2 separate regions of the Homo sapiens genome follow, and region 1 is linked to region 2. Evidence: fine-mapped expression QTL. A gene starts in region 2. The other region holds a variant in brackets. All regions are shown on one strand. Distances are from middle to middle. Region 1 has its middle 44 kb from the start of NXT2. Region 2 holds the start of KCNE5 (potassium voltage-gated channel subfamily E regulatory subunit 5).

Region 1 (5,379 bases), 44 kb after region 2:
GGCTGAGCTTGATAAGATATATCAAGGGTCCTTCACTGGTTATAGGCAGCACTTACATATTGGTACCGATAAGATGCTGTGGTCCAAAATAAGACTTAGAGCCATGATTTAATTTCTTTTTATGGCTAAATAATATCCCAATATATGGATATACAATATTTAATTTATTTATTCATTAGTTGATAGACATTTGGGTTATTTTGAACCTTATGCTGTTAAATGAATAATGCTGCTATGAACATTTGTGTGTAAGTATTTTTGTGGACATGTTTTCAATTCTCCTACGCATACACCTAAGATTGGTATTACTGAGTCATATGGTAACTCTATCATGACACTTGGAGAAATTGCCAAACCCTTTTCCAAACTTCCTGCAGAAATAGCAATGTATGAGGCTTCTAATTTCTCCACATTTTCACTATCACTTGTTATTGTGTCTTTTCTTTATTATAGTCATACTAATGGGTATGAAGTGGCATCTCATTGTGGCTTTGATGTATATTTCTCTAAAATCTAAAGACGTTTGTTCTTTGATCTATGAATTATCTAGAATAAAAACATTTTCCAAATTAATGGGAGATGTTTTTCTATTGTTATTGATTTCTAAATGAATAGTTTGATGGTCAAAGAATGTGATCTGTATGATACTTATTTTGGGGGTTGTTGAAAATGTCTTGTACATAATTTTTAAAAAATTCATGTGTTTAATATATGTTTATGATATTAACCTTGTTAATTGTGTTCTTCAAATCTTATATCTTTACTGATTCTTTGTCTTTTTGAATTAATAATTGAGAGAGGTAGCACGAAATTTTCCACTTTGATGGTGGATTTGTCCATTTCTTCCTGTAATTTTATCAATTTTGTTTCATATATTTCAAAACTACTTAATTTGATATATGAATAGGTTTCGGATTGCTATATCTTCCTAGTGAATTTAATCTTTTATAATTATGTAGTGGTCCCCTGTATCCCTAATACTGCTTCTTGTCCTAGTGTCTAGTTTTTTGAATATTAACATAGCAATTCCAGTTTTCTTTTTGTTAGTATTTGTTTGGTATATATTTTCCTAGCTGTTTAATCTTCAACTTTTCCGTGTTATTTTAGTTCAGATGGGTCTTTTGCAAATAGCACATAACTGCATTTAAAAAATTAAATTCAGTTTGACAATCTCTTTTACCTAGTGAATTAAGTCCATTTGTATTTATTGTGGTTATCCAAGTATTTGAGCTGTAATTTTTTATGTTCATCCTTCCTTTTCTCCTCTCACCTTGTTCAGAGGGATTGATTTTATTGCTATTATTGTTCATTTAAAATTATTTTTTCCTCTATTGGTTTGGAATTTATATTCAATTTCTGTTCTTTTAGTGGTTAGTTCCAAAATTTTACCAGGCATATTTACCTCAAAAAAGGCTAAAATTAGGTAATATTTTCACCCCATCCCAATCAACAGAAAGACCTTAGAACACTTTAATTGATCACAGTCTCCTGATTTGCAATTTGCTTCTTTTTATAAAACCAAAATGAGACATTTGTTTTATTATTTTATACAGGCCACAGTGACCCATGATCATGCCACTGCACTCCAGCCTCAACAACAGAGTAAGACCTTGTCTCAAAAAAAGAAGAAAAATGAAAAAAGAAATAATGGGTACAATTCCTCAGGTGCAGTCCAACTTCTTCCCCACAACTGCGGTCTTTCTCCCTGAGGCCAGTGGGACCACAGGTGAGGATATTCAGCCTAGACCAATTAATTCAGAGTCTTTGAAAGGAGTCCACCATTGATATGTTTAAACAGCTTTCCAGATGATTCTAATGTACAGCCAGGGTTGAGAACCACTGGTGTGGTGGAACGGTGGAAGGTTTGTGCCAAGATGAGCCATAGAGTGAGTCTCCAATAACTATTATGTTTTGGTTATCGTGTGAGCCGACAGTCCCTTAGAGGAGCAGACAAGATTGAACATTGCGGTGAGTATAGAGTCTTCCATATCTGGCAGAAGGTGATTCAGCCTGAAGTTCTTGAAAGTGACAGCGGGCGTCATTGAGGTAGTGGGCACAGATGTGTTCAGATCCAGCACGTCTGATTTAAATGAGTGAGTCAACTGGAACTACTAGAAAAGCAATCTAT[A/T]TGGAGGCATCAAAAGCTGTCAAAATAGTCAGGTTTTGAGAATCCAAGAAGTTAGAGAAAAGGCGACCACAGAAACCTGACCCACTGCTTTAACTCTTAAGGCATTTGCTAACTCTTGCTGTACAGCAAAAGGGTGAGAATCTGGATCAAACCTAGGTACATCATATTCAAATTTCTGAAAACTAAAAAAAAATTTTAAAGCATCTAGAGGAAAAAAGACACATTACATTCAAAGGAGCAATAATAAGATATTGGCTGACTTCTCAAAAGAAATAATGGAAGCCAGAAGACAAAGTGCTACCTTTAGTACTGAAAAATAACTGCCAACCTTGAATTCTATAATATATATAGTCAAATACTCTTTAAAAAGGAAGGTAAAATAAAGACTTCTCCAAACAAACAAAACCCGAGGGAATTTGTCACTAGCAGATCCAGGCTAAAAGAAATACTAGGGCCGGGTGCATTGGCTCATGCCTGTAATCCCAGCACTTTGGGAGGCCAAGGCAGGTGGATCACCTGAGGTCAGGAGTTAGAGACCAGCCTGGCCAACATGGTGAAACCCTGTCTCTACTAAAAATACAAAAGTTAGCCAGGCATGGTGGCACGTGCCTGTAGTCTCAGCTACTAGGGAGGCTGAGGCGGGAGGATCACTTGAACCTGGGAGGAGGAGGTTGCAGCGAGCCGAGATCACTACACTCCAGCTTGGGCGACAGAGTGAGACTCTATCTCAACAATAGCAACAACAAAAATAGTAAAGGCTATTCTTTGATAGAAGGAAAATTTTCCTAAATGGAAACAGAAATGCAGGAAGGATAAATAGTAATGAAAATGATAAATCCAAATTAATATCAACTTATAAAACCATAAAAATAATATCTTGTGAGATTCCAAGTATATGTCAAATTAACAGTGCATGATGACAGAAACAAAAGTCAAAATGAGGGGAAATGGAGATAAAGTGTTCTAAGACACAGTTTCCCTCCTGTGATCTAAGATGGCTTCTCCAGCTCTTACCGTCATATCCATATATCTCTTCCTCTTAAAGCTGCTTTTCAGAAGTTTGAATACATCACCTCTGCCTTCATTCCAGTAACATGACCTTAACCTAGGTGCAAGGGAGGTTGGGAAATGTAGTCTTCATCTGAGAAGACAAGTAAAACTTAAGGTTTCTATATTTAAAGAAAGAAGTGAAGAGTGGATATATTCAGAAGGTGGGGTGGGAGTGAGGGTGGTAACTATCAGTTTCTGCCACATTGCCCCAGTTCCTGTGTACAATTGATTTGTACAGGTGTAAAAATTCTAGGTGTGGGCAGACTGCATGATGCCGACAGACCAACTAGTCAATGGACATTTTAGCCTTTTGAGGATTCAAATATGGCCTTTATACTACACACAGATACTATCTTGAAAGGCTTTGCTAAAAGTTTCAGCCATGAAATCTTTAATCCTAAACTGACCACTATTTCACCAAATGAGGATAGAGAATTAGTGCAAAGCTCAGTGGATAATATTTGAGTTGTATTCAGTAGTGGGAAGGAAAGAAGTAGCCTTGTTGGTGGTAAAGAATATGTGAACTTACTCTACTGGCATAAGAAAGTTCTCATGGGAATGGCAAAAACTATCACTAATGAACAGTCCATTTGTAGGATACTATGGTGTCCCTTAGATATAGTATAGCAGCAGATATTATAGCCTAAGAAATAAAGTTCCAGAGTGCTAAGGGCAGTGCTTTGGGGAATAGAGCAAATGCTAGAACTAGTTAACTGGTTGCTGTTTGGCTCTAAATAATCAAGGATATTCAAGAAAAAAATTTTCAAATGGACTGGATGCATTCACTGGAAAATATTTTCCATGAAGAAGACTTTTTGGAAGAGATCCCAAGGATCCTATGTAATACACTGGTGGAATTCTGTCACCTCACACTGGCAAGAGGATGCCACTAGCTTTACTCATTATTTCTTGACATTCAGAGGGAAGCCTAAACTGCCTTGTGTTGGAAGCAGCTCAATGTGGGATGACAGCCTCAGCTGCAGTTGGCTAAATTGAAAGGCGAATTCTAAGTTGAAGATTTCCCTGGCAGCCTGACATAATAATGGGAGTCAGGAAAAGCACTCTGACCCATTTTTTCCCTGAAACATAGGGGCATAAGGTTGACTACTTGCTTAAATAAACAGAGAAGGGAAATAGGGGAAATGAGGAAAAAATAAAACTATAACTTCCTATCTCAAAACTGTTATCTTTTCACAGAAGTTGAAGAGGGAGTAAAAATGGGACTATTTCAAGCACAGGATATAATTGCATGATGAAATGAGGGGAAAGGGGTTAAAAAGGAAGACAAGAGGGAGGTAAAAAGGGGGACTTCTAGGAGTGCATGTGCTATGGACATGGTGCTGGCTAAAAGACTCCTTAATGGAAACAGCCAAGCAAAATTTCCCATCATCCTCTAAATATGAGAGTATTCAAGGCTCTGAGTAAGAGCAAAATTTTCAAAGTTGTGAACTGAGCCTACATAATCTGGAAGGAGTCTGATGTGCATGCAACTGCTGGGTTACACTAATAAACAAATATGTAATTATGAATTGTGATACTTCTTCTGAAGAAAGAAACAGGGTGCTGTAACCATGAATACTTGATAGGTTACTTTAGCCAGAGTGGTCAGAGAAGGTTTCTCTGAGGACATAGAAATTTTAGCTAAGCTCTCAAAGTCGAGAAGTCAGCCATTCAAGGAGCTGGTCAAAACGTTTAGGCAGAGGTTGGAGCAAATGCAAAGACCCTGAGGAGCAACTGGGCTCAGTATATTAAAAAAAGAGCAGTAAGCCCAGTGTGGCTAAAGCAGAGTAAGAGAGAAAGATTATGATGCAGAGACAAGCAGGGGCCACATTACGCAGGGCCTTGTAGGCCATGGTAAGTGTGATGGTTAATTTTATGTGTCAACTTGACTGGGTTAAGAAATATCCAGATAGCTGATAAAACATTGGTTCTGGGAGTGTCTTTGAGGGTGTTTCTGGAAGAGATTAGCATTTGAATCAGTAAACTGACTAAAGTGGATCCACCCTCACCACTGTAAGCGGACATCATCTATTCCATTAAGGGTCCGGAGAGAACAAATAGGTGGAAAAAGGGCAAATTCACTCTCTTCTTGGGCTGGAACATCTGTGTCCTCCTGCCCTTGGACATAGGAGCTCCTTGTTCTCGGGTATTTGGACTCCAGAACTTATACCAGTGACTCTCTCCCCACCCCAGGTTCTCAG
Region 2 (5,379 bases):
TTTGACACAAGTAATGTGTGAGGACTGAGAAGAAGAAGGTCAAACTTTATAATTCCAGTCCTGCTACTTAACCAGTCTGAACCTCAGTTTCCTCTTTGGAAAATGAGAATCCTATTAGCTCATAAGGCTGTTGAAATTAGAAAACAAGTTTAAATGATTATTTGTATGTTACAGTAAAGGGGTTTCTTCCTCCTTTCCTCTCAAAAAAAAAAAAAAAAACCCTAGCTATTTCTAGGTATATGTTAACACAGCAGTCCTCAACCTTTTTGGCACCAGAGACTGGTTTTGTGGAAGACAATTTTTTTCATGGACACTGGGGAGGGGTGGATAGTTTCAGGATGAAACTGTTTCACTTCAGATCATCAGGCATTAGATTCTCATAAAGAGCATGCAATTGTAGATCCATGGCATGCGCAGTTCACAATACGGTTTGAGCTCTTCTGAGACTCTAATGCCACTGCTGATCTGACAGGAGGTGTAGCTCAGGCGATAATGCTCACTTGCCCTCTGCTCACCTCTTTCTGTGCGGCTGGTTCCTAACAGGCCAAGGTCCAGCAGCCTGGGAGGTTGGGGACTCCTGTTTTAACAGATAAGAGAAGTCTTTTTAGCTCAACAGTCATATCACTAGGTTAGCAGTGCTTTGAAAATTCTCTGGCTGTGTCCTCTGGCATTCATCCTGCCAAGTTGCTTTAACAATTCTTTCCTGAGGCCCTCTGAGGTGAGAATATTGAGGCAAGGTGATTAGAAGGGAGCCAGTGTCAGGGTCATGTGGAATGTCTCTGAGGCCTGTTTAGAGGCTGTGAAGCAAGGCTCTGTTTGAGACCCTGGATACAGTTTGGTGCCAACCTCACCTGAACACACAGAAGGCTACAGCCCCTGGGTGGATGGTGGGCTGAAGAACGGTTGGGGAAGAGGCATCGGAAAACCTTCCTTTTTTAACCCATGGCACCTATAGATTGAATGGTCCCTGGACTGAACGGTCTTGAACAGGCAGCATTATTTTCAAGGTGTGCCTAAGGTCATACACTTTTCTTGCTTTCTGCTCTCATTTGGCAACTATGGACAACCAGACCTAGCCAGCACTACCTCATTTTTTCTACCCCACCATCTACAAACCAACCCTTTTCCTTTGTGAAGCTCAGTCTGTTTCCAATTTAACATATCTGGCCTGATCTTTGTCTTGGTGCCTTGTTTTCCCCTAAAAAAAGACAGCCTTTGAGAAAAAAATGGCTGCCCTAAAAGCCATTAGGGCCTAGACCTGTTACCAAGTCTAGAGAGGCACACAGCTGTTTGCTGGCCTAACTGGGAGTAGGGTGAGCATATTCTCTAGAACTGGCACTTTTCAGATCCCGAGATATCCACAGAGTGTAGTCAAAGGGCCTTTTAAAATGTGCATGCTACTCTTATTGGAAGAACTTGGTTTCACTTCTGGGAAGATGGCTTACTTACCCATGGGAAACAGGCTCCCATTATGAATAGTACATTCATGTGCTAAGATGTGTTGACTTTTCAAAAAGTGTCATAGGACATCAGAGCAGGGGTGCTTCCAAGAAGGTGTAATATCACTTATATCACCAGAAACCATTTTGGATAACCAGGGAGTTCTACTCTGCCTTGGCCTTCTAGCAGGTGCCTGAGCACTCAGTCACCAAATTCAGCCTGAGCATCTTCTGAATAAGATGCTCTCCTCCGACAAGGTGGGAGGGGGGTGAAAAGGGGGGCGGGGGGAAAAGGAAAGGAATGAGGACTAGAAAGATAGGCCTGGGTCCCTGTATATGGGAGTAACTTCCATAAAATGTGGACAAGGGGTCTCTGCTGCGGAAAGGCGTCTGCCCTCTCCCTTGAGCGCCCCAAGGCAGAGCTGCCTTAGGGGGCCAAATGCTGTATCTGGGCCAAAGCCTGGCCTGCAGGGCAGGTGGCCAGAACTTGGAAGGAATTCTCTTCCGCAGCCCAGGGTCCAGGCTTGGCCCCAGCAAGCTGCCCTGCCAGCGTCTGCTGCCTGGGGCCTCGCGCATTCCGAGCCCCCGCCCCCTCCGCCCGTCTCCCAGCCTCGCCCCCACTCTTGTCCCCTTCTCCTCCCCCCACCAGCTGTCCCCTTTCCCTGGAGCAGCGAGACAGCCAGAGCCTGGGAAGAGGCGGCCGCGGGCCGGAGGGGGCGTGGTGGGGAAGGGGAGGAGGGGCGGGAGTGAGGGAATAAGGAGGCCCCGCCGTCGGCGCCCCCAGCCACTGCGCGCTCGCCGGAGAGCTGGGTGCTACCGCTGTTTCCGCTGCTGAGCCCTGCCCGCCGGCCGGCCCGCTCGCTAGCTCGCTTCCCCTCGCCCAGGGGGAAAGGTCAGCAGCGTCCTGGAGCCGCCGTGTCACTCCCCGAAAGCCATGAACTGCAGCGAGAGCCAGCGGCTGCGAACCCTTCTGAGCCGCCTGTTGCTCGAGCTGCACCACCGGGGTAATGCCAGCGGCTTGGGCGCTGGCCCTCGTCCCAGCATGGGCATGGGGGTCGTGCCTGACCCTTTCGTGGGCCGCGAGGTGACCAGCGCCAAGGGCGACGACGCCTATCTCTACATCCTGCTCATCATGATCTTCTACGCCTGCTTGGCCGGAGGCCTCATCCTGGCCTACACCCGCTCCCGTAAGCTCGTCGAGGCCAAGGACGAGCCGTCCCAGGCTTGCGCCGAGCACGAATGGGCCCCGGGAGGCGCCCTGACCGCCGACGCCGAGGCTGCCGCGGGCTCCCAGGCCGAGGGCCGCCGCCAGCTTGCCTCCGAGGGGCTGCCTGCCCTCGCCCAGGGCGCTGAGCGGGTCTAAAACCACAGCCCCAGATTGCTGGTTCGCGCCCTCCTCATCTCGCTCATCCCTGGGCGCGCCTCCCACCTTCCACCCCCAACTCCCTTCCAGGGTTCGCCTCATCTGAGGCCCAGATAATGGTGAGAGGCCAGGAGACCTTGTCTGGAAGGCCCTGGAAGGAGAAGCACCACCTTACCCATTCGGGCCAGTTTCTCCCTCTTCACCCCTGCGCCTCCACCCCTACCCCGCACATCCAACTGCACTAAACTGCCTCTGCTCTCTTGTCTTCAGACAGCCCTGACAGCACGCTCCAGCCCTCTGGGAACTGAATCCAACACGTCCAACACTTGGCACTGAACTGAAGCAATGCATTCTATCAGAACTCTGGGCCGTCTAACTGGCAGCTGCTCCAGGGGCTGCCAGGGACTGCTCACTCTGCAGAGCCAACGGGCTTGCCAGGCCGACTGCAGCAGCTCCAGCTTCCAGTTGCCTTAGGGACAGAGACAAAGGAAATGAAGAGACCTCAGACATCTTTTCCCTCCCTCTCTCTTTCAGCAGGGAGCTAGCAGGACACTAGGACCAGTCTGTGGGATAGAATGAACTTAATGGGGGACGGAAGGGGGAGGAGTGCTCAACGGGGAGGGAAATGATCTATGACTCCAACCGTATGATTTTCTTGCCTCCCCAGTTTTCATCCCAGTGGTAACGCCTGATTTTTGGTAGCTATGCCATCTTCTGCTGAGGATTACCATTACTGGGTGTATCACCCCAGTACTTCCAAATGCCTCTCCTCTATTGATTCAGTTGTTATTGCAGTGTCTGCTTCATCCGTGGAACTTGAGGCTCAGATGCCCCCTGCTCTGTAACCCTGGGGAATGTCAGAGGCAGGTAATAAAGGTTGTTTAAACAATAACGCAAGACTCTTCTCTCAGAGATTCCAGCCTTAAGACCCAGTACCATATGGAGAAGGAATCCTTTTTCTTTTGCTTTTGGAAATGATGTTTGGATTTGGGGGTTGGGTGGTTGTGATATTTATATCTATGTAACCAGTTCCAATTTGATATGTGTGATTATGGGTGAAGAAAATGTTTATATGGCTAAATGGGTTGTTTTTTCAAGTGTTTCAAAAGTTATACCTACTTTATTACTTATCCCTCCTTTTTTCTTATTTCTGAAGCACTTTCAAAGATCACAATGCAGTCTTTCAGGATGCACTTTAAAAAACCTTTAAGGCCCATCCCTTTTAGCTATTATCAAACCTAATTTTTAGAAGCCACCTTAATAATTGTTTTTATTTTACTTTTTTTGAGACAGAGTCTCACTGTGTCACCCAGGCTGGAGTACAGTGGCACAATCAAGGCTTACTGAAGCCTCTGCCTCCTGGGTTCAAGCGATTCTCCTGCCTCAGCCTCCCAAGTAGCCTCCTGAGTAGCTGGGATTACAGATGTGCCCCATCATGCCCAGTTAATTTTTGTATTTTTAGTAGAGACGGGGGGTTTCACCATGTTGGCCAGGAGGTTCTCAAACTCCTGACCTCAAGTGATCCGCCTGTCTCGGCCTCCCAAAGTGCTGGGATTACAGGTGTGAGCCACTGCACCTAGCCAATAACTTTTTTGAAGTGGCTTATTAAAAGACAAGGAAGCCACCAAATAGTGTAAATCTGAAGTCAAAGAGAAAATTCTTGAACTGAGCAATCTTAACCAATGATGGGTAAAGTTAGAGGTGTGTGTTGTATTGATTTATTCTCCTTGTCTCAAGAAGGTTGTCAGAAACTTCCCTGCTTACAGCTGAAATGCTTATATCTGATGATGGCTGTTTGGGCTTCATCAACCACACATAAAATCACCTCTTAGAAGTAAGCCAATTTGCTTAAATATAGCTGGGTTCTCTGATAATGATAGCAGGACAAATATATTACCAGTCACTTAAATGCATTGATAACACACAAACCTCATTCAAGGCATTGGGTCTTACCTTCCAGCCCATCTAGCATTTTATTGGAACTGTTAATAAGTTAAGTGAACTTACTTTTATTTCCAGGATTCACTCATTGAAGCTATACTGGCCTTGCCCCATTGGCTCTTCTCCAGTCCTCGTTCCAGCCATAAGGTCACCCCTGAAGGTGAGGGCCAGGGATTGGGCAGCAGTCCAAGACGATGACAGAAAGAGAAGGGAAGCTGTGTGAGCCATTTCAGCCAGGCAGGGAGGCCTGGGGAGGATGTGGAGGAAGGGCACAATATACAGCAATGCTGAGGACATGTGACGGGGCGGTCTTCAGTCCTGTATTCTAAGTAAAACAATGTCACTCATTTATCTGGCATAATGGGGACTCAAGGTTATTATTATTAATTTTTTAAATTGAGACGGAGTCTTGCTCTGTCACCCAGGCTGGAGTGCAGTGTCGTGATCTTGGCTCACTGCAACCTCTGCCTCCCAGGTTCAAGCGATCCTCTTGCCTCAGCCTCCCGAGTAGCAGGGCTAAAGCCTGCGCCACCACGCTGGCTAATTTTTTTTTTTTTTTTTTTTTAGTAGAGACGGGGATTCATCATGTTGGCCAGGCTGGTCTCAAACTCCTGACCTCAAGTGATCTGCGCACCT

What was found. PIP is the estimated chance that this variant, and not a neighbour inherited with it, causes the effect. A credible set is the group of variants that fine-mapping cannot tell apart.
Region 1: its variant is the best candidate, but not a certain one, in a credible set for the expression of KCNE5 in monocytes (TOPMed, PIP 0.55).

Annotation. Positions count from the first base shown.
Region 1 is chrX:109,577,968-109,583,346 of GRCh38, reverse strand. No RefSeq gene overlaps it. Among named protein-coding and RNA genes, the nearest start is that of NXT2, 44 kb to the right of the region's middle. The variant A/T (reference allele first, on the strand shown) is at 2,129.
Region 2 is chrX:109,622,015-109,627,393 of GRCh38, reverse strand. KCNE5 (potassium voltage-gated channel subfamily E regulatory subunit 5) reads left to right here and starts at 2,222. Exons shown (of 1, transcript NM_012282.4): 1 at 2,222-3,694. The coding sequence starts at 2,374. The coding sequence ends at 2,802.